Linked DNA regions of Homo sapiens: regions 2 and 3 are each linked to region 1. The links come from fine-mapping of genetic effects on gene expression. A gene starts in region 1. Each other region holds a variant in brackets. All regions are shown on one strand. Distances are between the middles of the regions.

What was found.
Region 2: its variant is fine-mapped to the expression of FIBCD1 in whole blood (TOPMed, PIP 0.99).
Region 3: its variant is fine-mapped to the expression of FIBCD1 in whole blood (TOPMed, PIP above 0.99). The same link has a PIP of 0.9 or more in blood mononuclear cells.

Annotation. Positions count from the first base shown.
Region 1 is chr9:130,935,389-130,943,561 of GRCh38, forward strand. It overlaps FIBCD1 (fibrinogen C domain containing 1), which reads right to left and starts at 3,859. Exons shown (of 7, transcript NM_032843.5): 1 at 3,148-3,859. The coding sequence starts at 3,219. It overlaps FIBCD1-AS1 (FIBCD1 antisense RNA 1), which reads left to right and starts at 4,958. Exons shown (of 3, transcript XR_930398.3): 1 at 4,958-5,054. RefSeq lists enhancers at 3,561-4,491, 5,937-6,156 and silencers at 3,736-3,945, 5,714-6,008, 7,925-8,098.
Region 2 is chr9:130,888,840-130,897,012 of GRCh38, forward strand. QRFP (pyroglutamylated RFamide peptide) reads right to left here and starts at 7,973. Exons shown (of 3, transcript NM_198180.3): 1 at 7,738-7,973; 2 at 6,858-7,142; 3 at 3,868-4,999. The coding sequence starts at 4,999. The coding sequence ends at 4,589. RefSeq lists enhancers at 4,791-5,305, 6,094-6,781, 6,782-7,468. The variant G/A (reference allele first, on the strand shown) is at 4,943.
Region 3 is chr9:130,988,569-130,996,741 of GRCh38, forward strand. No RefSeq gene overlaps it. Among named protein-coding and RNA genes, the nearest start is that of LAMC3, 17 kb to the right of the region's middle. RefSeq lists an enhancer at 6,520-7,076. The variant A/G (reference allele first, on the strand shown) is at 4,684.

The DNA.
Region 1 (8,173 bases):
CCTGGCAAATACCGTTTCACCCTGCCCCAAGGGCGTGAGAGGCTCCTCCTTCTGTAGGGAGAGGGAGGACGCATTAACAAAGTCCAAATCGGCAACTTGTCCAAGGTCGCCCGACAAAGAGTAGCTGAGGCTGGATAGGGCTGGGACAGATGGGGCCCAAGGCGTTTCCCAGAAATGGCTGCACTTGGACAAAGGTCCTTCAGGACCTCCGGACCTGGGCTATACCCACTCACAGCGGGTGATTTCGGTACCCTGAGAACCACACAGCCTGGACACTGCAGTCCCAACTGGGGCTGAGTGGGCTGAACCAAGAAAGGGCGGCCAGCCACCCCTTAGGCACTTGTCTGCTGTCCAAGAAGACCCAGGTTTGAGTCCCAGCTCCAGCTCTTAGTCTCAGTTTCCTCATCTGTCAAATGGGTTCATCACTCCTGCCACCAAGCTCCTAGGGTGGCTGTGACTAAGAAATGAATCTTAGTCGTGGCCTGTGACCTACTGGTGCTTGGAGTGCGGCGTCAGCGTTATGCTCCCAGAGGAAAATCCCCGTTAAAGAACCTCGGCCAGGCCCCGTTTGTAGGAACCAGATGTTCAGATGGCGTTTCCTGGGGGGCAGAGAGGAGACCGGGACACAGCCAGCCTGTGGAAGGGACAGGCTGCTGCGAGAGGCATCCTCCTCATGAGTACACAGTGCTTTGCAGTTTGCAAAACACACCAGTATGTCACGTGGCCCCCATAACAGCCCTTGTGAAATGAGGAGGAAGCGAAGATTGCTGTTCCCACTTTACAGATGGTGAAGCCCAGGCCCAGAGAGGAGGAGTAACTTACCCAGGGCCACACAGCATGTCAGTGGGTGAGACAAACCTGGCCACAAGGGAGGAGAGAAGGCTGGCCCAGGAGAGGGCAGGCCCAAGGGAACCAGGGCAAGCAGTGTTCTCTCTTTCTTCTGACAGTGGCCACAGGAAAGGCCTTGCCTCTTGTCTGAAGCTTCAAACAAGCCCAGAGCTGGCACAGGGAACAGCCTGTCTACATGCTGGGTCACCAAACGGGCGGGGAGGGGAAGCGGGTGCTTGCTATTGGCCCAGGCTCTTGGAGCAACAGCCCTCGAGCTTCCTCCAATGCCAAGGGGCAGACAGCTGGGCTGTGTGGGGGCTGAAAGCTGTGCCCCCAGGGAGCAGCAGAGGAAGGCGGGGCCCGGCCTGGAGGCCTTGAAGCCACATTTCAAACACATTCCCCAGAAGGCACCTCCCCTTGAGACAGACCAGTGCCTGCTGGCCGTCTCCTGAGGCTCTTCCTGGCCGAAGCGTCATGCAGTGCCATTCAGCAAACGCTCTCAATGCCTGACCTGAGCTGCCTGGAAAGAATGGAGCTTGGGCCCAGGGAGAGATGCAGAGATGGGCTCCAGAGGAGGGTGTGTCCAAAGGGATCTCCTGATGCAGGAGGGGCCCAGGACAAGGCAGCTGAGTGGCACAGGCTAAACACTACTAGAACTTAGAGACATAGCCACAGGGCATCAGGAAGTCTTCCTGGAGGAGGTGGCAGCATTTGAGCTTGATTTTGAGTATATGTAGGGTGTCCCTGAGTGAAGGGGTGTGTGTGTGTGTGTGTGTGTTTGTGTAAGGCTGGGGAAGCAAACAAGATGACACAGAAAAGATCTGGAAATGGAGCGGCGTGGTGTGGGGCCCAGGGTTGGCAAATAACAAACAGTCACTGCCTGTAAGGGACCAATGGGAAGGCACAGTATGCCAGGTTAGGGATGGCCTTGGAGGACAGGTCTAGAAGTTAAGACAGTTCTTGCTAAGGGGGAGAAGTCAGATCTCAGCAGGAGGGGACTTGTTATTTTGGGGTGGCTTAGGTGCAGACCTGACCTAAAAGAGGGGCGCGACCACCCCGGAGAAGCAGTGGGATAGGTGTGTGGTTAGACCAGAGTTTGAATCCCCACTCTCTTGCCAACGTGCTGTGTGACTTGGGCATGTTCCGAACCTCTCTGATCCCTGGTCTGTGATGTGGGAACGCACTGGCCCCCAGCCTGTTTGGAGAAGTGAGGTAGTGCCGATGAATGGGAAGGGGCTTTGCAAACCGCAGAGGGCTGGGCCCTTGTGCCACGGCAGTGTCACACCAGGAAGAATGAGCAGGTTGCAGCTCCTGAGAGGAAGGGACCACCAAGGGCTGCCCGTGCCGCCCCCTCCTGCAGCTGCAAGCACGAACTGTTCCTTCCCCAATGACATCTGTCTGGAAGAAATTTAAAATTTAAAATGGGCAGCCCTATTCTCTCCTCTCCTTGGTGAGCGAGCGGCCTCCTCGTTTTCGCCTGCCTGCCCCAGTCCCTTGGCAGCCCAGCCTGGGGCAGCCCTGGGGCTCCCCTCCGCCTTGGCTTCGGGACTCCAGCCCCCTTGCTGGCCAGCCCAGGTGTTCTGCCCTCACCCGCTTCCACCGCACAGCCCTGGGCACCCTCCAAGCCCCACCTCCACTGCCCCTGAAGAGGCAGCAGGAAGGGAGGAATGAGTCAGCCCTGGAGCACACAGACAAGGGTTCAAATCCCGACAGAGCTGCGTGGCCTCAGGCAGGAGCCAACCATCTCTGAGCCCTGCTTTCCTTGTCTTAAAGTCAGAAAATCACAATACCCAGCGTTCCTGCAGGAGATGAATCTTTATTGATCCCCTACTGTATGCAGGGCCCTGGCTAAAGGGAAGGATGCAGAGGAGATTCAGGGGGTCAGGTTCAGGACCAGGTGCCTGGCACAGGGTAGCGCCCAGAGTGGAGATTCTGTGGGTAGTTAAGATGCCCATTGTAGAGGTGAGGAAACGGAGACTCAGCAACGGGGCTGATTTGTCTGTGGACACACAGCGAACTGTAAGTCCCCGCCTCCCTCTGCACCCGCGTGCACCAGGGGGCTGCTGGGGGTGCGGGGACGCGGGAGACCTGGCCCGCAGCGCGCGTGGCTCCTGCAGGGGTGCCGCCCCCACCGAACCTCGAGTTCAAGCCTCGGCTCGGGGAGGAGGAGAGGAGGGTCCCCATCCCGGCCCGGGCCTCCGGAGCCTCGAAGGGGTGCGCCCCAAACTCCAGCCCCCGCAATGGGTGCTCGCCCCGCCGGCCCGAGCGGCCACCGCCTGGCCAGCCGCCCAGGCCCCGTGTCCCAGCGCCCGAGCGTACCTGCGGCTTGTCGCGCGGCCGGTCCTCAAGTTGGGCAGCGCCGCCCATGGTCTTCCACCGGTCGTTGACCATCTTCCGGCAGGACTGGCGGGGGCGCCGGGCGAGGCGCGCCGCTGCGGAGCGCAAAGGAGACGGGGTGGGCGCGGGCGCGGGCGCGGGGCGCGCTCTGTCCGCCGGGTCCCCGCCTCTGTGCCCCGCGCCGGGGCGGCCCGGGAGCGGGCGGGCGTGTGAGGATGAGCGCGCCGCTGTGTGCGGGCGGGAGCAGGAGCGGGAGCGCGAAAGCCGCCAGCCCAACGCCCGCCGCTCGCGCTGCGCGCCGTCCCCGCTCCCGGCTCCGGCGCCTCCCCGGCGCGCTCCTCTCTCTCCTCCCTCGTCCCTCCTCCCTCCTTCTCAATCTCCGCATCTTTTCTGGTCTCGGACTCTCTTTGCTTTTTATTGCTCCCCTCGGCCTCCCCCGACACACTCACACACACGCGCGCGCTCACACCCGCGGACTTGGATACTAAACTCCGCCTCCGAAAAGACCTAGGGAAAGGAGGCCGAACTGGCCCCCAGATAACGCGGCCGGCCGGAGGGCAGCAAACAGCCGCGGGCGGCCCGGCTCCTGCTGGCTCCCGGAGGGGCCTGAGAGCCCCCCGGCGGCGCCTCTGCACAAACTTCCTCCCGGACCGGACTCACACAAGTCACCATGCGCGGGGCGGGCCCCGAGGGCGCCCCCGCCGGCCGGTTCGGCGTCTCCGGGGAGTGGCGCGGCGCTCCTTCCGGCTCCCTCCCGGCTCAGGACGCAGGGCTCGCCCCAAGACCCAGGCTGCGCCGGGGGCAGTTTCGGTGGGGTGCGCCCCCTGCGGGCCCCCGAGGTCTGGGTCCAGGTCCCGGGGCAAGTGCGCCCAGCTGTGGGGTCTCCAGCCCCCGGGGACCTCCCTGCGCCGGACCCCGACGCGTGAGCCTGGCCGGTGGGCGTCCCAGTCCGCGTCCGCAGACCCGTGCCCTCGCGCCCGCGGTCGGAAAGCCCACACGACGCCCCCTTGCCCGGGCGGCCCGTGGGCGAAATGGGGGTCCCCACCACTGCCACAGCCGCCGGCGCTGTGGTCGCGAGTACCAGCCGCTCCGCGCTCGGCCGCGCTCCCGGCCGATCGCCCGCGCTCCCCGGCGCGCCCCGCGTGGTCCCAGCCCCCGCCTTCTCCTCCGCCGGGAGGGGATTTGTGCCAGGAGGGGGCTTCTTAGTTGCCCCTTCCCACCAGCAGCACTTTTAAAAGCATTTAATCCGCCCGGAGCGGCCTTCGGAGGTAATTGACAAAGTCCTTAATCTGCGCGGCGAACGAGCTGCTATTGTGGCTTCTGACCGGGAGGCGCCCACACTGCCCGACGCCGCGCTCCCCTCCCGCCGCCCCGCCGAGCCCGCCGGCCGCCCCTCCTCCGCCCCTTTCTGCGTCCCCATCTTTTTCTGCTCCCCCAGCTCCAGACAGACCCCCGTTCCCCGCCCCCGCTTCTCCCCAAAGCTGTTTTCCGGCTCCCGGGGCGCCTTGGCCGCCGCGCTGTTCCCTGGCACCGTCTCCGTCTCTCCCCCACTGGCTGCCAGTCTGTCGCCCCATCTTCGTCCCTCTCCCGATCCCTCTACGCGTCCGGCACTGGCGGGGCAGACTGGTTGGGGGTGGGGGCCGCGTCCAGCCTGGGCTGGGGCACTCCCTGGACCCCGGAGCGGGGGACCCTGTGGCCCGGTGCCATCCGAGGAGACTGCCACCCGCCAGGCGCTGGGTTCACAAACCACCGGCTGTTTGTCCCCAGCCGCCTTTTCCTTCCAGGACAACCGCTGGCCTCACCTACGGCCCGATCCCGGCTTCCCGGACTGAGGCTGCCCGGGAGTTGGAGAGGATCCCACAGCAATGGCTGGGAGTCAGGAGACCCAGGTTCCAATTCTGGCCTCTGGCCCTTTCTGGCCCCTCGGCCTTTCCTATGAATTAAGAGGGTCAGCAGGTGATCTAGAGGGCCCTCAGACTTGGGAAGAAGGATGTGGTGGAGGGCACAGGGCCCTGGCTGTGTGGCTGAGGGCAAGCAACATACCTCTCCGAGCCTCAGTTTCCCCATGTAAGCCAAAGGGTTGACTGCACACGCTTCAGAAGGGCTCTGCCACAGTGCATCACAGCACCTGAGCAGGGCAAGGCTCAGATGTTCCTGCTGTGACCTTGGGCAGATTCCACGTCATCCCCAAGCCTCAGTTTCCTCGTAAACAAGGACTTGCCTATTGGTGGGGAGTGGCGAGGTTTGCAGGCCCTTGTGCAGTTACAGGCACAAAGCGGGCAGGTGGCGGAAATGCAAGGCTCTGACTCCACAGTTTGGCGAGAGGATGTAAACTCCAGACGCATTTGTGCACAGATGAAAGATCACCCTGGGGGGTGGAGCGGGGGTGGGGGGCTGAACTGAGAACCCACGGGAGGGGTGCTAAGGACCAACGGAGGAGGTCTTGGAGATGTGCTCAGAGTAGTCAGGGAGGCATCCTGGGATGGAGGGGTGTGAGCCCGCCCCCAAGGCCCATGAAGGCAGCATCCAGAAGTCTGGGTGCTGAAGGAAAGGCATTTCCAATGGCGGGGCCGCAGAAGGGAAGGCGGAGCTAGGGGAGTGACCCGGGCGTACCTGGGCAGGTGCAAACCGGAGGACCGGAGGACGCTCTGGAGGATCGCCTCCCGGGCCTGCAGAAGCGCGGTTGGACAGGTGAGCGGGGGCCACCTAGCGGCTCCTGCTGGGAGTGTTGGAGGAGGTTGGAGGTTGAATCATCTCACCTGCTCAGCCACAGGTTCAGCCTGCGGGAGTGCCTTACGTGTGTGTCTTCGGGAGCGGGCCTCACTCTGTCACCCCCTCTGTGCTGACGCCTCTGCTCAACACCCCAGGAGAAGGGTCAGCCGTGATGCAGGACTGGCATGAGCCTGCAGGCGTCTGCTCAGCGCTTTACACACTGCACTCAGCAGACACACTTAGGACATCGTTCTGGAAGAAGGGAGGGCCGCCCCCATTCACTGGAGCCTCCGAATTGGTGGAGAGGAATAAAATGGAAGTGGATCCCAGAAGCCAGTGCTGACCCACAGCCAAGATCTGTGCGAGAGAAAGGGCAGCCGACCCCACAGAGCAGACAGGCCCTCCACCCTCGGATTTCCCTTTGACAAGGCTGATGACCACAGAGCACTGGGGGCGAGCTGGGCTGTGCTCAGCAGGTGGGACAGGACAGAATCAGGGCTTTCCAGCCAGCCCAAGACTGAGCATTCCTTGTCAGGGACGAGCCAGCACCTCAGGGTGCCAGAACACAGGACCGGGAGGCTGCATGGTATTAGACTCGAGGTTGCCTGGTAACTTGTTCACTCTCTGCGCATCCCCTCACCTTCCTCTTTCTGGCTCACCAATTCTGCCTGTTCCTACTTTGCCTTTCCAAGGCCACCTGGATATGATGGCCCCACCAATGGGCAACTCCTATCTAGGACTGAACCAGGCATATCAATCATAAGTGGCAGATGGCCAAAGACAGCTGTCCTTGGTCAGGTACCAACCCATCAGACCTTGGTCAGGTCCAATGTGGGGGCATGGCTGCTGGGGCCCTAATGCAGGACCCCTCCCTTAGCAGGGAGTGGGTGCAGGGCAGGCAGTACGGCGACATGGGAGGGGTGGAAAAATAGTCCATGGGGAGACAAGGAAGAGCAGCAAGGGACATAGGGGGACAACATTCAGGGTGCCAGCCGTGACCAACAGCCACCTGTTGGAAGCACCCTCACGCTCAGCGCTGTGCTGGGCACCTCATATCCTCCCAGCCCCCTAATAAGTGAATACTATTGTCCCCACTTTGTGGATGAGGAAACTGATTCAGAAAGGTAAATTACATGACCTGGGTAATTGTGTAATTAATAAGATGATACGATCAATATGGGGCCAGGCACAGTGGCTCACACCTGTAACTCCAGCACTTTGGGAGACCGAGGCAGGTAGATCATCTGAGATCAGGAGTTCGAGACCAGCTTGGCCAACATGGTGATACCCCATCCCTACTAAAAATACAAAATTAGCAGGTGTGGTGGTGCACTCCTGTAATCCCAGCTACTCCGGAGGCTGAGGCAGGAGAATCACTTAGAACCTGGGAGGCAGATGTTGCAGTGAGCCGAGATCGTGCCACTGCACTCCAGCCTTGGCGACAGAGTGAGACTGTCTCAAAAAAAAAAAATCAATATGGAATTACCATTTACCAAACATTTCCATGTGCTGGATACAGCAATACCATTAACAATACCATCTTATTTCAAGTAATCCTCACCCAAGACCTGTAAGTGTTATTAATAGCCTCATTTTCTAGATGAGGCAACAGAAGCTCAGAGAGGTTAAGTAACTCAATCAAGACCACACAGCCATTGGTGGGGCAGAATTTTTTTTTTTTTTTAACACGGAGTCTCGATCTGTCGCCAGGCTGGAGTGCAGTGACGCAATCTCGGCTCACTGGCTCTCTGCAACCTCTCGGGTTCAAGCGATTCTCCTGCCTCAGCCGCCCAAGTAGCTAGGACTACAGGCACACGCCACTACGCCCAGCTAATTTTTGTATTTTTAGTAGAGACAGGGTTTCACCATGTTGGCCAGGATGGTCTCGATCTCTTGACCTCATGAATTGCCCACCTCAGCCTCCCAAAGTGCTGGGATTATAGGCATGAGCCACTGCGCCTGGCCGGTGGGGCAGAATTTGAACCCTAGTGTGTGCACTTCCAGAGACTATCTCTCTTTCTTCAATACCTCGGTGCCTCTTCGTCTGCCAGAGCTGGGCCTGAGCCACCCGGTGAGCGTGCTGAGCCAGCATGCAGCAGGGCTTAGCGGACGTGGGCAGAATAGCCAATGTGCCAGTCTCTCGGGGCCTGGGGGACTGGCTGGCCAGAAGGTCGGGACCTCTGGTCCCCATCCACTCAGCCTCTGCCCCGCACTGCCAAGGGTACTCAGCTCTCGCCATAAAGCTGTTTCAACTTGACTCTGACAGTCACATTTATCATTAAAAATAAATGTATCT
Region 2 (8,173 bases), 47 kb before region 1:
GGGATCTTTCATGGGTGTCACCTGAGCTTATAGAGCTTAGTTTAGTCTAGCCATTCCAAGACAGTGGTTTCTTAACCTTTTCTAGGTCACAAAACCTCCTGAGAACCTAATGAAAACTGGATCCCAGCCCCAGAAAAATGCACCTGTGTGCACACACCCAGCAGTTTCCAGGTCATTTCAAGTCCTGCCTTCGAGGTCCATTGTTATTATTTACAAAACACCAGCCTAAGGTATTGGACATTTTCTTAAAAGGCCAGGCAAGGTGGCTCATGCCTGTAATCCCAACACTTTGGGAGGCTGAGGTGGGTGGATTGCTTGAGGCCGGGAGTTCAAGACCAGCCTGGGCAACATAGACCCCATCTCACAAAAAATACAAAAATAAGCTGGGTATGGTGGCACCTGTAGTCCAGCTACTCAGGAAGCTGAGGTGGGAGGATTGCTTGAGCCCAGGAGGTGGAGGTTGCAGCAAGCTATGATCGTGCCACTGGATTCCAGCTCCAGAGTGAGACCCTGTCTCAAAAAAAATTTTTTTTTCTTTTTTCTTTTTGAGACAGAGTTTCGCTCTTGTCTCCCAGGCTGGAGTGCAATGGCACAATCTCCGCTCACTGCAACCTCTGCCTCCTGGGTTCAAGCGATTCTCCTGCCTCAGCCTCCCGAGTAGCTGGGACTAGAGGTGCGCACCACCAGACCCGGCTAATTTTTGTATTTTTAGTAGGGACGGAGTTTCACCATGTTGGTCAGGATGGTCTCGATCTCTTGACCTCATGATCCGCCCACCTTGGACTCCCAAAGTGCTTGGATTACAGGCATGAGCCAGTGCGCCCGGCCCACCACTTTTTTTTTTTTTTTTTTTTTAAGACGAGTCTCACACTGTCGCCCAGTCTGTAGTGCAGTGGTGCCATCTCGGCTCACTGCAAGCTCCGCCTCCCAGGTTCATACCATTCTCCTGCCTCAGCCTCCCAAGTAGCTGGGACTACAGGTGCCCGACACCACTCCCGGCTAATTTTTTGTATTTTTAGTAGAGACGGGGTTTCACCATATTAGCCAGGATGGTCTCTATCTCCTGACCTCGAGATCCACCCACCTCAGCCTCCCAAAGTGCTAGGATTACAGGCATGAGCCATCGCACCCGGCCAAGCCCACCACTTTTTTTAATGAGAGAGTTTTTGTTACTGTCCTCCTCTGACAGGTAAGGAAGCTGAGAGGCTCAGAGATGTCAAGCAGCTCGGCCAAGGTCACACAACATGTACCAGCTGGTGCCTACCACGGCAGTCTAATCAGTAGACAGTGCAGACAGCCCCAACAGGACCAGGAGAGAACTGTGCCCAGGGCCGGATTTCTCCCTCCACAGTGGAAGAGAAGCAGCCAAGTATTACAGCCAGCCCAGCTCCTTGGGCCGCAGAGATCATCTCAGGAGGCCTTTCTAAACGGAGTGCCCTGGGGAAGCAAACTCTAAACGTCCTCGTACGAGAAGACATTAGGTGAGACCAGGCTGACCACAGTGTCCCTGTCAGCACTGCCCTCGTCCCTGGGGGTCACCTAATGTCTTGCTCCCCTGCCCCCACACTCCAGTTGATATCACTGCTGTAATCAGGGAAATCTCTGAGCTCTTTTTCTGGGAGGGCATTTCCGAGGGGCCAAGGAGCTGCGGATTGGAGGAGCACCAGCAGCACAGGGCATGCCCCTGCTCCCTACCCAGAAGCTGGAAAGTACCATGTCAGGTTTGGGGTCTTCAGTGAAATCTGTCAAGCAGCGTCTTTGGCACTGGGGCAAAGTTAGGATGAGGTGGCTTCCCTCTTGATTACTACAGCAGCTGTCTATGGCTGACTGTCCCCAGGAGCCTGTTTTGTTTGGGGTTTTTTCTTAAATATTTTTATTAGTATTTCAAACATACAGGAAAAGACAAATGTTTTCCATTCATCTTGATAGCTAAATACCTTTAGATCTACACACCAAGATGAAGACCGCCTTGTGTCTTGGATAAATGTAACGAGCAGATGCTGGCAGCTCGCAGGTGCTCTGGGCTGGAGTAGTTAGAACTGCCGGGCCAGGTGGAGTGAGCCAGCACTGCTCAGGGGAGCTTCATCTCTCTGATTCCAAAATAAATGTTTTCTGGAGTCTCAACTTCACCCTCCTGGAGAGGGGTAATCTTATCTGTGGAGGAGAGAGCAAGGGCTGAGGGGGCGCTGGGGTGGCATGAGAGGCCCAAAGACCTTGACAGACACGGTGGGCTTGGCCGCGGGGCACCGGGTTAAAGAGGAGGCTTAGCCAAGCCCAGCGGGAGTTGATTTGACAGCAGTGCCCTTAGCAGCTTGATTGTTCGGATTTTCAGGGCTACTGAGCTCAAGTGTACAAGCAAACTGGAAAGAATAGCTTTGTTGGGTTTTTTAAAGTGATAAAAGCATAATGACAGCATATCCACTGCTTTGAAGGCATCCCCCGCCCCCGTGTTCTTTATCTCAGGTTTTTCCATCAAGGTTAATCTAATCCTGCTAAATTAACAACCAGCCAGTGCATCCCCAAAGAGCCTGTGGAATGTGCAGGGTGGCTCAGCCTCGGTGTTCTCTAAAGTACTGGCTGTGGGTGGCTCCTTGCTCACTTGCAGAAGTTGGCAAGTGACGAGTGGCCAGGGGACCGTGCGTCAGGGCGTCCCTCTGCCCTCAGCCTGCTGTGTTTCACCCGGTCTCTGGTGAGCACATCTCTGGCTGCTTTGCGTGAATGAGCCAAGGGAGGGATAGATCTAGCTTACTGCCTCCCCCTCCCTTAAGCCAAGCAGAATGGGGTGTGTGTGCACACCTGTGGTGAACGAATCTGTCCGTTCACCCTGTGCCAGGGCCGTCCTTACAGCAAGGACCCCGGGGATGTGTCCGTCCCCATCAGTGTCATGTTAGCAAGCAGTGACAACATCCCTTTGCAGGAGGCATCCTGAACCACTCTGTCCTCAGACAGTGGCAGAGCCCAAGAGAACAATGTGCCCCACCCCTCCACCAGCCTCAGGAATCATTGTCTTGTCCCCATCACAGCAGCCCTAAGACTCAGGGCACATGCGCCAAGCCTGGGGGGCTAGTTTCTGTGTGGGAAGCGATGGGGAAGCGGTGAGGAGCTCCTGGAGAAGGTGGCAGCTTTCATACCGGGTGATGTTCTGACTCTGGTGTTCTCTCCCATCTCAGCACCCATTCTGCTCCCCAGTCAGGTTGGTTCTTTGTGGCTCAGATCTGTCACCCCTTAATGAAGTGGCTTTCTGGCTGCCAAGGATTGAGAGCTGCTACTGAGGAGTATAAGTCACTAATAGCATGGAAAACACTGTGAAATACTCCAAGGTGCCAAGCTGGGCCCAGCCCAGTGTGGTTCTAAAAGGCTAATAAAAATCCACCAATTAATTGTGACAGCTCAATGGGAAATTATTCAATTGTGAACAGGGGCAAGCTGCAGCTCGAAAGGAGGAGGGGAGGGGTTGCCATAGTAACATCAATGTAAGTTCTCATCTCAGCAGCGGAAGCCAGCCCGGGAGTGAGCAGCATCCGACCGCCGCCTCTGACACGGGATGGGATGCAGGAGACACCAAAGGCGCGTTTGAAACAGATGCTTTGCCTGGCCCCGGGCCTGCAGCCACTCCCGGCTGAGCGTGGGCTCTCCCCGGGGCAGAGAAGTTGTTTTCCGAATGTTCCTTGCTCTTAGGAAACCTGGGAAGGAGCAGCCGAGTGGAAGTGAAAAGCACATGTGCTGTGTTCCTCCGCCCCTTTGACCGACTGCCGGTTACAGGGATCTAGAGGAGGGGTGTTTGGGTCCAGTCAACAGGAGCTCCATCTCCCGAAAGGCAAGGCACCCAGAACTCAGACTGTGGGGGAGGCCAGCATTCCAGTATGGTTTTGCAGTTGTCACAACTTTTATTTGAAAAGATACACACGACATATTCTGATTTTGAACATGTGAAATGCAACCTTGCTATAGCAAAAACGGGATTCCTTCCCAACGCATCTCCCAGGAGACTCCTGGCCGGGCTAACACTGGGCCGCGGAGAAGGGCTGCGGTCAGAGGGGCAGGCAAACCACAGCAGGGGCTTCTTGCCAGGGGGATCTTGTGCTCATGGCATGGAGAAGGGGATCGGGTTCTTTTTTCCCATTTTTAACTTTCAGAACCATCCTCTGTACCCAGTGGAATGCACTCATTTGCACTCTGATGTCAGCCGCAGTCGTGCCTATAGAGACTGTCACAACTTTGATTACCCAACTGTAAGCACTCAGCCCGCTGCCTCGCTCTGCTATTCACACTCATGGCCCAGCCACAGCCTCAGCTCCGTGCCCCTGGGGCCAGGGGGCTGCTCGGAGTCAAAGCCCCAGGGGAAGAGAGAGGCTGGGACGACCGAGGCTCCAAGACAGCCTCCTTTTTGACACTGCCTAGTTTTTCGCTTCAGCAAAGTTGGAAATCAAAAGTAAGCACACACCTAACCTGTCCTACCATGGATCGTTCATCGTAACCAAGCCTACATCATCTGGGTGTCGTGGTCTTTGAGACTGGGGGAGAAGGCAGGAGTGAAGACAATGGGGGTGAGTCCAAGAAGCAAATCCTTCCAAGGCGTCCTGGCCCTTCACCGCCGACCGAAGCGGAAGCTGAAGCCGCCTTTCTTCCTGCTGTAGCCATTGAGCTCCTCAGCCAGGTTCCCTAACGGGCCGCTGGTCTTCTCCCCCGCAGCAGGGAGGAAGCCGGTGGCCTCACTGCCTTCGTCCTGCCTCCCGAAGCGGAATCTGCAGCCAGCATGCTCTCTGCCCGATGTCTGCAGCCCCCTGGCTATGACAAGCAGGGCCTGTGGCTGTGAAGCTCTCAGCCACCGAGAGGAACCCCACACGGAGTGGGGTCGGGGCCCCATGGCCAGGTCGGCCCAGCGTTCTCCAGCTCCGAGGCCACCCATGGCGTCTGTGGGCTCTCTTCTGTCCAGTAGAGG[G/A]AAGCAGGCGCCCAGCGGCAGGAAGAGGAAGTAGATCAGGGGGTAAGGCCTTACCATCTGACCCAGAGGAAAGAGAGGCAGAGTGACAGGCTGCACACGTGGCCAAGCGCAACTCACCAAAATGTTTCCCCGGGACAGGCTGGCAGCGTAGATGTGAGCAGGGGGCTCAGCTGAGCCCGGCTTCCGAGCAGTGCTGGGACTAGGCCACTGTTTTATTAGCAGGATCAGGAGGTGATTGTGCCAGTTAGGCCGGTTCTTCTCCTGCAGTCCCCACGATCTGCGTGCCTGGGCAGCTTAGCACCGTAAATCCACCGCTGCTGGCTGGCAGAGCAGTGCCCAGGCGGCCCCGGGAGAGTCAGCAAATGTATGCTCATTTTTCTCTTATTATAAAATGGCCATATCATTGCAGAGCCATGGGGTGGAAAGTTAAAAGCATCAATCTCCCTTAGTGTTCAACTGGATAATAAATGGGTCTAGCTATGCTGTTTAGCTGGGACATCCTGCTAATGTCTCTTTCACGTGGGAACGAGTTGCTCCTGAAAGCCAGAAACAGATTGGATGGTCCTGGCCTAATTCGGACACCCACCTGGGAAGGAGTGTGTGGACACCACTGGGGCCTGGGCACCGTAGGTCTGCCAGGCTCTGAGCCAAGAGCTCACACATGTGATTGTACTTCATCTTCATAGTACTCCTGCTTGGTAGGTCCGGCCAGTCCCACTTTTTCAGGCAACAAAACTGTCAGAAAAACTGAGATTGTGCCCAGGCCACACAGCCAGAAAGTGGAGGCTCTGGATTCATGATTCTAATGGCCAGACGGCTTCTTCAAGAAGCATACATATCTGCTAGGTACTCCCAACCCTCCTATTTCACAGGGGTGGTGTCGGTCTCAAACAGCTGAGGTGACTTGCCCCAGATCTCATGGCCTTATCAGTGCCAGAGCTAGAGTTCAATCCCAGGTCTAACTGGGCTTGACTCAGGAAGGCGTGCCCTAACTCCCTCCTCTGTACTCCACATGGCACTCGGGGGATCTGAAACCCAGCCTCCTGTAATGAACCTGCCTTGGTAACACTTGCTCCCTTGTCTGGCAAAGAAAACCTTTTTGACAATGACCGCGGGGGAGCTGGAGCTGGCTTGTCCTCCGCAGAGTCAAACTGAGGCTAGACTAGAGAGCACCGGCCCTGGAGAAGACAGTACAGGAGTCCCCAGAGCCCTTTCCAGAAATGGCTCCCTCGAACACATTTCAAAGAAGCGAGCTCAGCCAGGAAGCTTTTAAAAAAATAATACATGCAACCCCACTTTCTACCCAAATCCAGTTCTTCTAAGCTTTCGTCCCCCAGGGATGGAGTGACCTCCCTCATGCTGCCAGGAAAACCTTTCCATCAGGGCGCAGGCAGAGTGGGGGCTTCCACGAGGTGACTTTCTGCAGCGGCCCAGCCCATTCCCTCCTCCCCATAGGAAGCACTTTGCTGACTGCGATGTGGACCAGGGACCGTTGCATCCTGGTGGATAAATCCACCCGGGAGTGGCCTCTGGGTGTCTAGAAAGGAGACAGCCTGACAGAGCAGGCCCTGGAGTGGCCCTTCACCCCTTTTAGGGGTTCATGCACCCCTTCAAGAATCTGGTAGAAAGTGGGGATGCTCATCACGGGACAGGCGGCCCCAGCGCGAGTCAGGGCTTCAGGCCCCACAGCCAGGAAGGGACAGGAAAAGCACGGGTGAGGCTGGGTCCCAGCCCTGGCAGGGCAGCCGTGACCAATCTGTGCTGCTCTGGGCTGTTGGCAGGGGAGGCACTGGTGTCCCCTCTCCGGGCACTCCCTCCCTGTGCTTCTGTGTGCCCTCTGACTGCCCATGCCTGGCTCCTGCCTGGGCAGGGCCTGAGCTGGGGTTCCTGCTGGGGACAGGGCAGCTATGCTCACCGTGTGGCTGGGACTGCTCCCAGGAAGGCTGGCTGGTGGATCGCTGGGCTCCGGGGCTGGGCTGGGCAGAGCTGCTCTGGGTCCTCGTCCAGGAGGCATGGCCCCTGGGCTCTCCCTGCTTTATATGGCCCGCGGTGCGCTTGCTGCTCTGCCGACTGCCTGCTGCGCATTCCTGACCCTGGGATTCCATTGGGGACGCTGTTGTTGAAGAGGGGCAGTGCTGACCGCGTTGATAAAAACAACCTCACACAGGATGTAGTCTGATGAGAGGGCAGGCGGGCTGCCCTTTGGAGGAGAGCAGACAGCATCATTAACTGCAAATTGCGGGCACAGACCCTCGAGTCCCTTGGCGGGGGTTCCAAGCCCACCCTTCACCCTAAGGGTCCTGCCTTTGCTGGGTTGGCACCTCACGCTCCGGAGAGGACATGGGGTGGGTGGACATCTACCCGACACACCTACTGCCCAGCTTGCAGGATGGCTTTCATGGGCAGGAAAGCCACAGACACCCATGAGGCCCGTGTTTCACAGGCACCGGGCTGCGCGGCTAAGCCAGGTGCACCTCCCCGGCAGGTGGAGCCCTCAGCGGCCTGTTACCCAGGAACCAACCAAGGGGGCACGGCAGATGCCCAGGACAGCAGTGGAGCATTTGCCTGTGGCCCCCAGCCCCTCCCACCGCATACCCTGGGTGGCCCCCTACTGTCACCGAGGGTCACCTCTGGGAGGCCAGCAGGAGGACCCAGCCTCTGCTCCTTGCCCGGCAGAGATTCTCCCTCCACTGAGAGCAGGCAGGGGGGTGATGAGGCAGCCCCACCCCACCACTGTCAGGAACTGAGCACAGAGGGCCTCCCCCATTCCAGGGGCCCTCACCCAGCCGACCTACCCCTGCATCCCGGCTGCTGGGGGATCAGAAGTCATGGGAATAGAGAGCCTGTGGACACTTCCCCAGAGACCTGAGGAAGGCACTGGAATCTCGATCCTCCACTTCGGGGCTGAGCGCCCAGGTTCGGGCGGAGGGTCTGCGGATTGAAGCCGATGACTGAGCTTTGCTGGCCAGAACCAGCTTCCATCCCCCAGGCCAGGGCTGCCTCCGATGGCCTGAGGTGCCCCTGTCCTGTGTGTGCATGTGTGTGTATGCCCCCACATGAGTATGTGCACACGTGCGTACACGTGTGTGTGCTCGTGAGACGGGAGGTGTGGTGTCCTTCTGTCTCCCTGGTTAGTGCTGGTTGATTCTGACAGCGGGCACCAGTTATCCATGGGGTGCCGCCCAGGGTGGGTCTCTACCGTGCTATGAGCCTGGACCGGATGCCTGCCCT
Region 3 (8,173 bases), 53 kb after region 1:
ACTTTAATGGTGAACAAATAAGAAAATAGACACAAAAGAGTCCCTATTATAGGATTCCATTGGTCTGAAGTTCTAGAAGTTGTTGACTGTGCTCTGGTGATAGAAGACAGAGGTGATCTCGATGGCAGTGGGCAGAAGGATGAGGGAACTTCTGGGAGTGACAAATGTTCTTTGCCTTGATCTGTGGTCTCATGTGTGCATACACATGTAAAAATTCATTGAGCTACATAATTGTAATGCATGCATTTCACTGAATGTAAATTACACACACCCCCCCTCCCCCAACACACACACACACAAAGTGGCAATGGAGAGAGGATGGTGGCTCCAACCAGGTTGTAGTACGGTTGGGGGGCAGGAGGGAGACAGAGGGCCTGGAGAAACTGTGCTCCCTCCGGGCTCGCTACATCCAGGCCTGGGCCACCTGGAATTCCAGCCACCTCCTGCCCTTCCTGTGGTCCCTCACTTTGGGTGGGGCAACTGGGATGGGCAGATGTCCCTTCATGGGGACAGGTGGCCTGGGGAAGTGGTTATTGACTTCAGGGACCTGGCTTGTTTGTCTAGCGGGGGAGGGGCTGGCGGCGAGCATCACAGGACCAGATTCCTGATTATAACTTCATAACGGGCACTGGTGATTCGGGAGGTGCTGATATTTATGGAATAAATACAGTGCAATTTATGGCCGTATCTCCCTCTGATGTCCCATCTGATATGCAATTCAATTTCTTTTATTGTTTTTGGGCTTTTGCCATGGAGGAGAATGCATAAATAAATAAATATGTGGGCAAATGGCAGCCGGCGGGCCAGGCCGGGGCTGCCAGCCCGCCGTCTCCAGTCCCATATTAGGCCCATCGATCACACGTTATGAAGCCGGAGCCTGTCCCCCGGCTGGGATGAGCAGCAGACGTGCCGGTCACTCCCTGTTATTTAGGGGCCTCCGTTGGCGGGCTGCCCTGCCTGCCCTCTGCGTGCCACTGGGCCGTGGTGTCCATACTCAGGACCCAAGCCCATGCCGCTCTGCCACTCGATTGCAGGAATCCTGGAGGATTCTGCCCAGGGCCCAGGAGGGCATGTCCCAGCCCTTCTGTGGGCTGAGAGCACTGAGGACTTCCCCCTGCCCTCCTCTCCCATGGGAACCCCACGCCCCACAGGGTGAGGCTGCCGGGCTCTCTCACAGGCACCTTCCTGCTTCCATGCCCAACGGGCATGCCAGAAGTTCCGTTCTGGAGTCAAACCACATCTTCAAAAACCAAGCACCAGCATCTCTGAGCCCTGGGACCCTCGGTAAGTCCCCCATCCCTGCGCCTCGCTTCTTCATCTGAGCACAGGAGAGCAGCCTCTGTCCCAGGGCTGCCTGGAGGATGGCGGGAGGCCCTGCATGCGTGGGCACAGGCCAGGCACCCACTGCACAGAGTCGGACGGGGACCGTGCTAGCCGTGCCAGGTGCGGGGGATGCGCGAACCGGCCGACAGCGGCCCAGCCCTTCGCGGGGCCCTGCCCTCGGAGTCACAGAGAGGCTCAGTGGCTGAGCCTGGGGTCATCATTGATCCCCAGGACTGTCCCCTGCTGGGGACCGGACACCAGCCTGTGGGAGGACTTAGCTGGAGAGGCCACAGCCTCTCCTCGGTCCCCATCTCGGGTGGACCCCTGGGCTCCGAGATTCAAGTGGGCTGCCGAGTCCCTCCCCGTGCTCTTGGGCCAGCCACTAGCCTGGAGCCGCCCACTTCCTGCTGAGTCCCTCCCCGTGGTCTTGGACCTGCCACTGGCCTGGAGCCCCCCACTTCCAGGTGCTCCCATCCTGTGTCTCCCCGATCCCAGAGCACCCTGGGCCAGGCTGGGACTTATCTACAACAAGCTCACAGCTCCGCTCCTGCATAGCTCCAGTGACCACCACGGGCCTCGCTCCGCCACCAGTCCCAGCCGCCTTCCTCCTTTGGCTGTGCTGAGGGCTCCTGCGCCAGGCCTGTCCCCCTCAGGGCCCCATGGGTCCTGCCACACACACAGATACATCCCACAGCCACACACCACGTGCACACACACATACGCACCCACAACACACGCACACACACGCCGCCAACATGCACACATGTACACACACACAAACACACACCAACACACAGATACCCTTCCCACGTCCTCCCCTCACAGATCCCAGTGGAAACCCGATAGCCCCCAGCACATCCTTGAGACACGTGTGTGCATGAAAATCAATTTGCAAAGAATATCCCCATTGCAGAGACGGGGGTGGGGACTGACAATAAACTATGGAGAAGACTGATCTCCGCGGAGACCTGAAGGGGAAGACAAGGGGCTGCAGTGGGGAGGGTGCTCCGAGCAGAGGGAGCGACGTGCATGTGAAAGCTCTGGCAGTCCTCACATAGCTCCCCAAGCAGGGGGAGACCTAGCCGGACACTGAGGCTGTGGACTGTCCTAAATGGGGTTTGTCCTGGAAGCTGGGAGAAGTGGGGAAGGACAGGGCCAGGAGGCTGCTAAGAGAGTTGGAGAACTGGGTTTCAATCCTGCCTGACCCTCTCAGGATCAGCGATCTCAGGCAAAGCCCTCTGCTTCCCTGAGCCTCAGTGTTCTCATCTGCAGCCTGGGGGCAACGCCCCTCCCTCATAAGATCATCTTGAGGATGAATCTGGATGGTTTGTATGGCAGGTGGTGGGGACGGAGCCTGGCCCAATGGGGGTGAGCAGGAGGGGTCACCTCTCTGATTCTGACACAGCGGGGGGTGCCCCCTAACCCCACCTACTCTGAGTGGCCCCCATTTTTACCCTGTCCCGCGGAGGGTTGGGGGTTATACTGAATCCACCTCTCTGTCCCCCAGGGGCCTCCACCAGGCCGTGCCTCCTGGGCAGGCATAGACTTGGCAGCTTTACAGTTTTATTTTCTGAGCCCCCTCGCCTGGCCTTCACATCAGCCCCAGCAGGCGGCAGAAATTTCCCGCGGCCTATGCAGGGCCCCATTTGCGCATCGCCGGGAATGCTAATCGGCTCCTGGCGGTCCCAGGCGGAGAATCCCGCCTTTCCCTGACATTTGTAAAGTTCACGTTTTCAAAATAAAGCCACGTGAAGGGCGAGGCACTCGCAGATCACTTCCCTGTCACCGGCCTGCTGGCTCCTTCCCTGCCCTTGGCCTTCACTCCCCCGCTTAAAAGCCATCAGTCCTGGGAGAACAGCCACCCCCCTCCCCGAGCTTCGCTGGCCAGTTCCTTTCTCCCAGCCTTCTGCCTGCTTTCTGCCCTCCCTCCCTCCTTTCACACACTCACCCATTCACTTGTTCTTTCATTCTGCACTATTTATTGAGCACCTAGTGCACATCCTTCCTGGGTGTATGTCAAGGACACAGCAGGAAGCCCCAGGATTCTTGTCCCCAGGAGCTGACAGTCAAGTGGGAAAGAGGGACATGAAATACTCACTTAATGACAAGTGTGAGAAATGCCACAAAGTTGGAAGCAGGGGAGGTGTCACAGGGTTGGGGCACCAGGGACTGCTTCCCTGAGGAAGTGGCATCACCCCAGGCCTAGAGGAGGAGCAGGAGTCAGCCGCCACCCCACCCTGGCGAGAAGAGGCAGAAGGGCATTTCAGGACCCGCGGGTGCAAAGTCCTGGGATGGGGGGGCCAGGGATGCCTGAGGGTCTAGAAGAGGCCCGTGAGTTCTGGAGTCTTAGGAGCTTCAGCTCAAGAGATCCCCTTTACCCGAGGGGAATGGGGGCCCTGCAGGGTCGTGCCAGGCCCCTGGTGCGGACTGGGGTCCTGCTCAGGTGAGGCTCAGTGCACGTGGCGCTCAGATGGCCAGGCCCTAGGGCAGCCGGAGCTGTGCATGTGCCTCCCGTCCCTGGATGGGTTCTGCTGACTTACACTTGGGTTATAACTGGGTTCTGGTGACTTATAATTGCTGTTTCCTTGTCCTCAGCAGAAAGAGCTCGGAAACGAAATTATTGTTTAAGGACAGCCTCCCTGCAGTGAGAACTGCTGGCGAAGACCAGTGTCTTCCTCCTGCAGCCGCACAGCAGCAAGCGAGGCCGAGCTCATGGCCTGAGGGGGCAGACGGGCCACAAACAGACAAGCAAAAACATGCCCAGCAGGTGCGGTGAGGGCTAGGGGGGAAAACCCGCAGAGTGGCAGGGGAGTCCTGGGGAAGGTCAGCAGGAGGGTCTGGGACGGCCTCTCCATAAAGGGATGCAGAAGAAAGTGTGGGAAGAGCGTTCCAGGCACGAGGAGCAGCAAGTGCAAAGGCCCCGAGGTGGAAACGTGCTCTGTGTGATCGGGAAGGAGGCCCGTGTGGCTGCAGCCAGCCCAGTGGGCAAGGGGACAGGATGGCAGGTGTGGTCACTGAAACCAGAACTGGGTAGGGGGCAATCAAGTAGTGCCTCCTGTAGGGACAGTGAGGCCCGCAGAGCTGGGGCAGAGGCCGCTGGAGAACCCAGGGAGGAAAGGCTCTCATTTGAAGCAGCACACATTCACCCCTGACTCCCGCTTCATTGATTCACCATCATTCATTCACTCTCACTCATTCATTCCTTTTCTGTCCATTCTTCCGTCCACTTCCCATTCATTTGTCAGCTTTCATTCATCCCCTCTGCCTTTTGTGAGCATCTACCCTGCCACCTGCCCAGGGGAGGAGTCAGACCCACTCCCTGCCTGCCCTCAAAGGGCTCCTCGTCTGTGGTGGGGTCAG[A/G]GGTACAACAAAGCCCACTGTAGGGGCCTGAGGTGTTTAATCCACCCACGGGATGGGTTCCTGGATCCCTGGCCGGGCCCATCTGTGGGTGACACGTGGCACTGTGAGCTGTGGGGGCCGTATCTGGGCACTGGGCAGGGGGTGCTGTATCAGTGTGGACGTGGCTGCCAGCATTTTATAGGGAAGTGCCAGGCCCAACGGAAGCTGCTGGGGACCCTGGGTCCCCAGAGGAAGTGGCAGTGGGGGCCAGCAGGGGCCAGAGGCTGGGGCTGGAGCCTCTCACTGGTGGGGGGACAGCCTGGACCCCTGGGAGAGCCTTGGGAAAGGGAAGCCACTCTAGGCAGGCCTCAGAGGACATCCTTTGCTTCCCTTTATCATACAGATGGGAACCCTGAGGCCCAGAGAGGGGAAGGGACCTGCCCAAGGACACACAGCGTGGGAGGGGCCGAGCCAGGAGAAGTCTGGCCTCCTGGGTTCCTCTGGGCACAGAACTTCAGCACTGACAACGGCTTCCCCATCTCCCCCAGGCCTGCTCCTGGACCGGCGACCCTGTCTGAGCACAGCACGCCCACCCAGGGCCCAGCCAGAGACCCAGAGCCAGCCTCAGCTTTGCTCACCACCCCGCCAGCCCAACTGGGTGATTTTCTGTCCCCAGTGCCTTCTGGCACAGATACCCCCATGCCCAGGGGCCACAGTTTGCTTCCCGGGTCCTGCAGACCCCAGCTCCTCCCTGCTCCTGTTTAGGCTACCACCTCATTCTCCTCGGGTCCCTGCAGCAGCTGCCAAACCATTTCTGCTTCCACACCACCCCCAGCGGGCCAATCTCCCTGCACATCCCAAGAGAAAATCTTCCCACAGCTCCCCATGGCCCCCCGGTGAAGTCCAGGCTCTCCAGCAGGATGTCCTGGGCCCTTCTTGGCTCCCCTTTTCCACCCTCCCCACTCCTCAAATGCCCATCCTCCCACCCCCATCCTCCGCTTCTGAGCCTTTCACATGCTGCTGTCTGCCTGGGATGCTCTTCCCCAACCCCTTTTCCTGGATACTCCATTCTCCTCCAGGTCTCAGCTGAGACTCCACCTCCTCCAGGAAGCCCTCCCTGATCTCTCCAGACTGTGTTAGGCATCAGGTCTCCACTCTCACTGCCTGGTGCTTACAGCCTTGTGTTGTTATTAACAGCTTCTTGGATCCCTAAAGTGCAGGGACAGTTTCATCATTATTCATCACTCTGTCCCCTGTGTCCAGCCCAGGGCCCAGAGTGTGGGCTGAGTAAACATCTGTCCAGTGGATAAAGGAATGAATGAATGAATGGATAGATAACCACGTTTATCTCCTTTGTAGCCCAGCCTGTGGCCCCTGCACCACCGAGAAGGGGACATCCTTTATTCTTCTGAACCCCCTGAACTTGAAGGGCTGCCCAGGGCTGACTCATCCAGGCCCAGACCCACCTCAGGCTGAACACAGCAGGGAGGTTGAGACAGTTGCTAGACTGAGTAGTGACATGCCCTGAGGCCAGTCATGTCCCTTGGCCTGTCTAAATCTGTTAACTCTGTAGGAGGAGATGCTCCGTGAGGGTGACAGCTGAGGGGCCCCCTGTCAGCTCCCATCAGCTCCCTCTCCATCCTGCCTCCCATCTCATCTTGCAGGTCTCCAGTGAGCTGTCACCTCCTCTGAGAAGCCTCCCTGATTGCTCACCCCCTCATGGAGCTCATCCCAGCCCTGTGTCTATTTCCTTTGCGGCTCTTACCGTGATCAGTCACTAACTAATTCACCAGGTTGCTTCCTGGGTCACTGTCTGTCTTCCTGATTCTCTGGGGAGCACCATGAGGTCCCAGACAGTCTATCCCCTGTACCTCAGCAACCAGCCCAGGGAGGGCACAGAACAAATGTCCCCTAAAGTAATAGAATGAATGAATGGATGGATGAATGAATGAATGGAGAGCAAAGTGGAAAGGCGCACAGGCTCTGGGGCCGGGCACACTGGGGTGTGTACACGGCTCTCTGTTGCTGACGAGCAGAGTGGTCCTGGGCAAGGAGCTGTCTCTGGCTGGGCCTCAGTTTCCCTGTCTGCAATATGGGGAGAATAACAGTAACTACTTGTGGAGGTGGTGCACTCAGCCCAGGTCTGACTCCCAGGAGGCCTCTCAGGGGGTGACCTTGTCCTTGCTCAGAGGGGCAGGGCAGTGCCCAGGGATATGCTGCAATACAGACAGATGGGCGTGGGCCTAGCAGTGGGATCCTGGGGGCTGATGTCGCCAGTTGCTAACTTCTTTCTTCCACAGTTGTCCACAAGCCCTTGGCAGACCTCCCAGTTTTCACTTCCTGCCCTTGAAGCCTGCCTGCAGAGCAAGTGATGTCTCCCCACCGAACAGAAGGGAAGATCGAGACCCAGGCATGCGGACAGAGAGCACAGGCTTAACAGAGCCTCTGAGCCAGACCTGGCATCCTGGGAACCACCTAGACCAATGCTCTTGCTGTCCACATGGGGAACTGAGCCGCCCTAGAAGGGCAGAGCCCCACCCAAGATACCACAGTGAGTCTGGGCTCCAAAGCTGCAGGGTGGGGGCAGGGGGAGCTGCCTTTCCCCTCTGCGCTGTGCCCCCAACGCTGGGCTCCAACGAGGCTGCAGAGCTGTCAGGAGAGATCAGCAGGGCCCTGGCCGATCTCCCCAGATTTAATTAACAGGCCTTTCATCTCTGTCCTGAAGGAATCAGCTCTCTTCTGTCTTCTTAATTAACGTTCATTAAGCAAATCAGAACAACAGGGTTTTTCTCCCTTCTTTCTTCTCCCGGAAGGTTTTAACCCTTAGTAGGTGGGCTTCCGGGAGGGAGCCTGCTACCTTTGCTGGTAGCCCAAGCACAAGGCCAGGCCTCTGCAGGAGCCCCCTAGGTCCCCAACGCAGGCACATTCCTTATCGGACACATACACACACACAATGGACACACACACACATTGGACACACATGCACACACTCACATATCAGACACATGGGACACATACACACACATCGGACCCACACACACATCGGACACACACACACAACAGACCCACACACACATCGGACACACACACACAGGACACACACACACATCAGAGACACACACACATTGGACACACACACATATTGGACACACACACATATTGGACACACACACACTCACATATCAGACACATGGGACACATACACACACATCGGACCCACACACACATCGGACCCACACACACATCGGATACACACACACATCGGACCCACACACACATTGGATACATACACACATCAGACACACACACACACATCAGAGACACACACACATTGGACATACACACATATTGGACACACACACTCACATATCGGACACATGGGACACATACACACACATCGGACCCACACACACATCAGAGACACACACACACTGGACACACACACACACATCAGAGACACACACACACACTGGACACGCACACATATTGGACACACATACACACATATCAG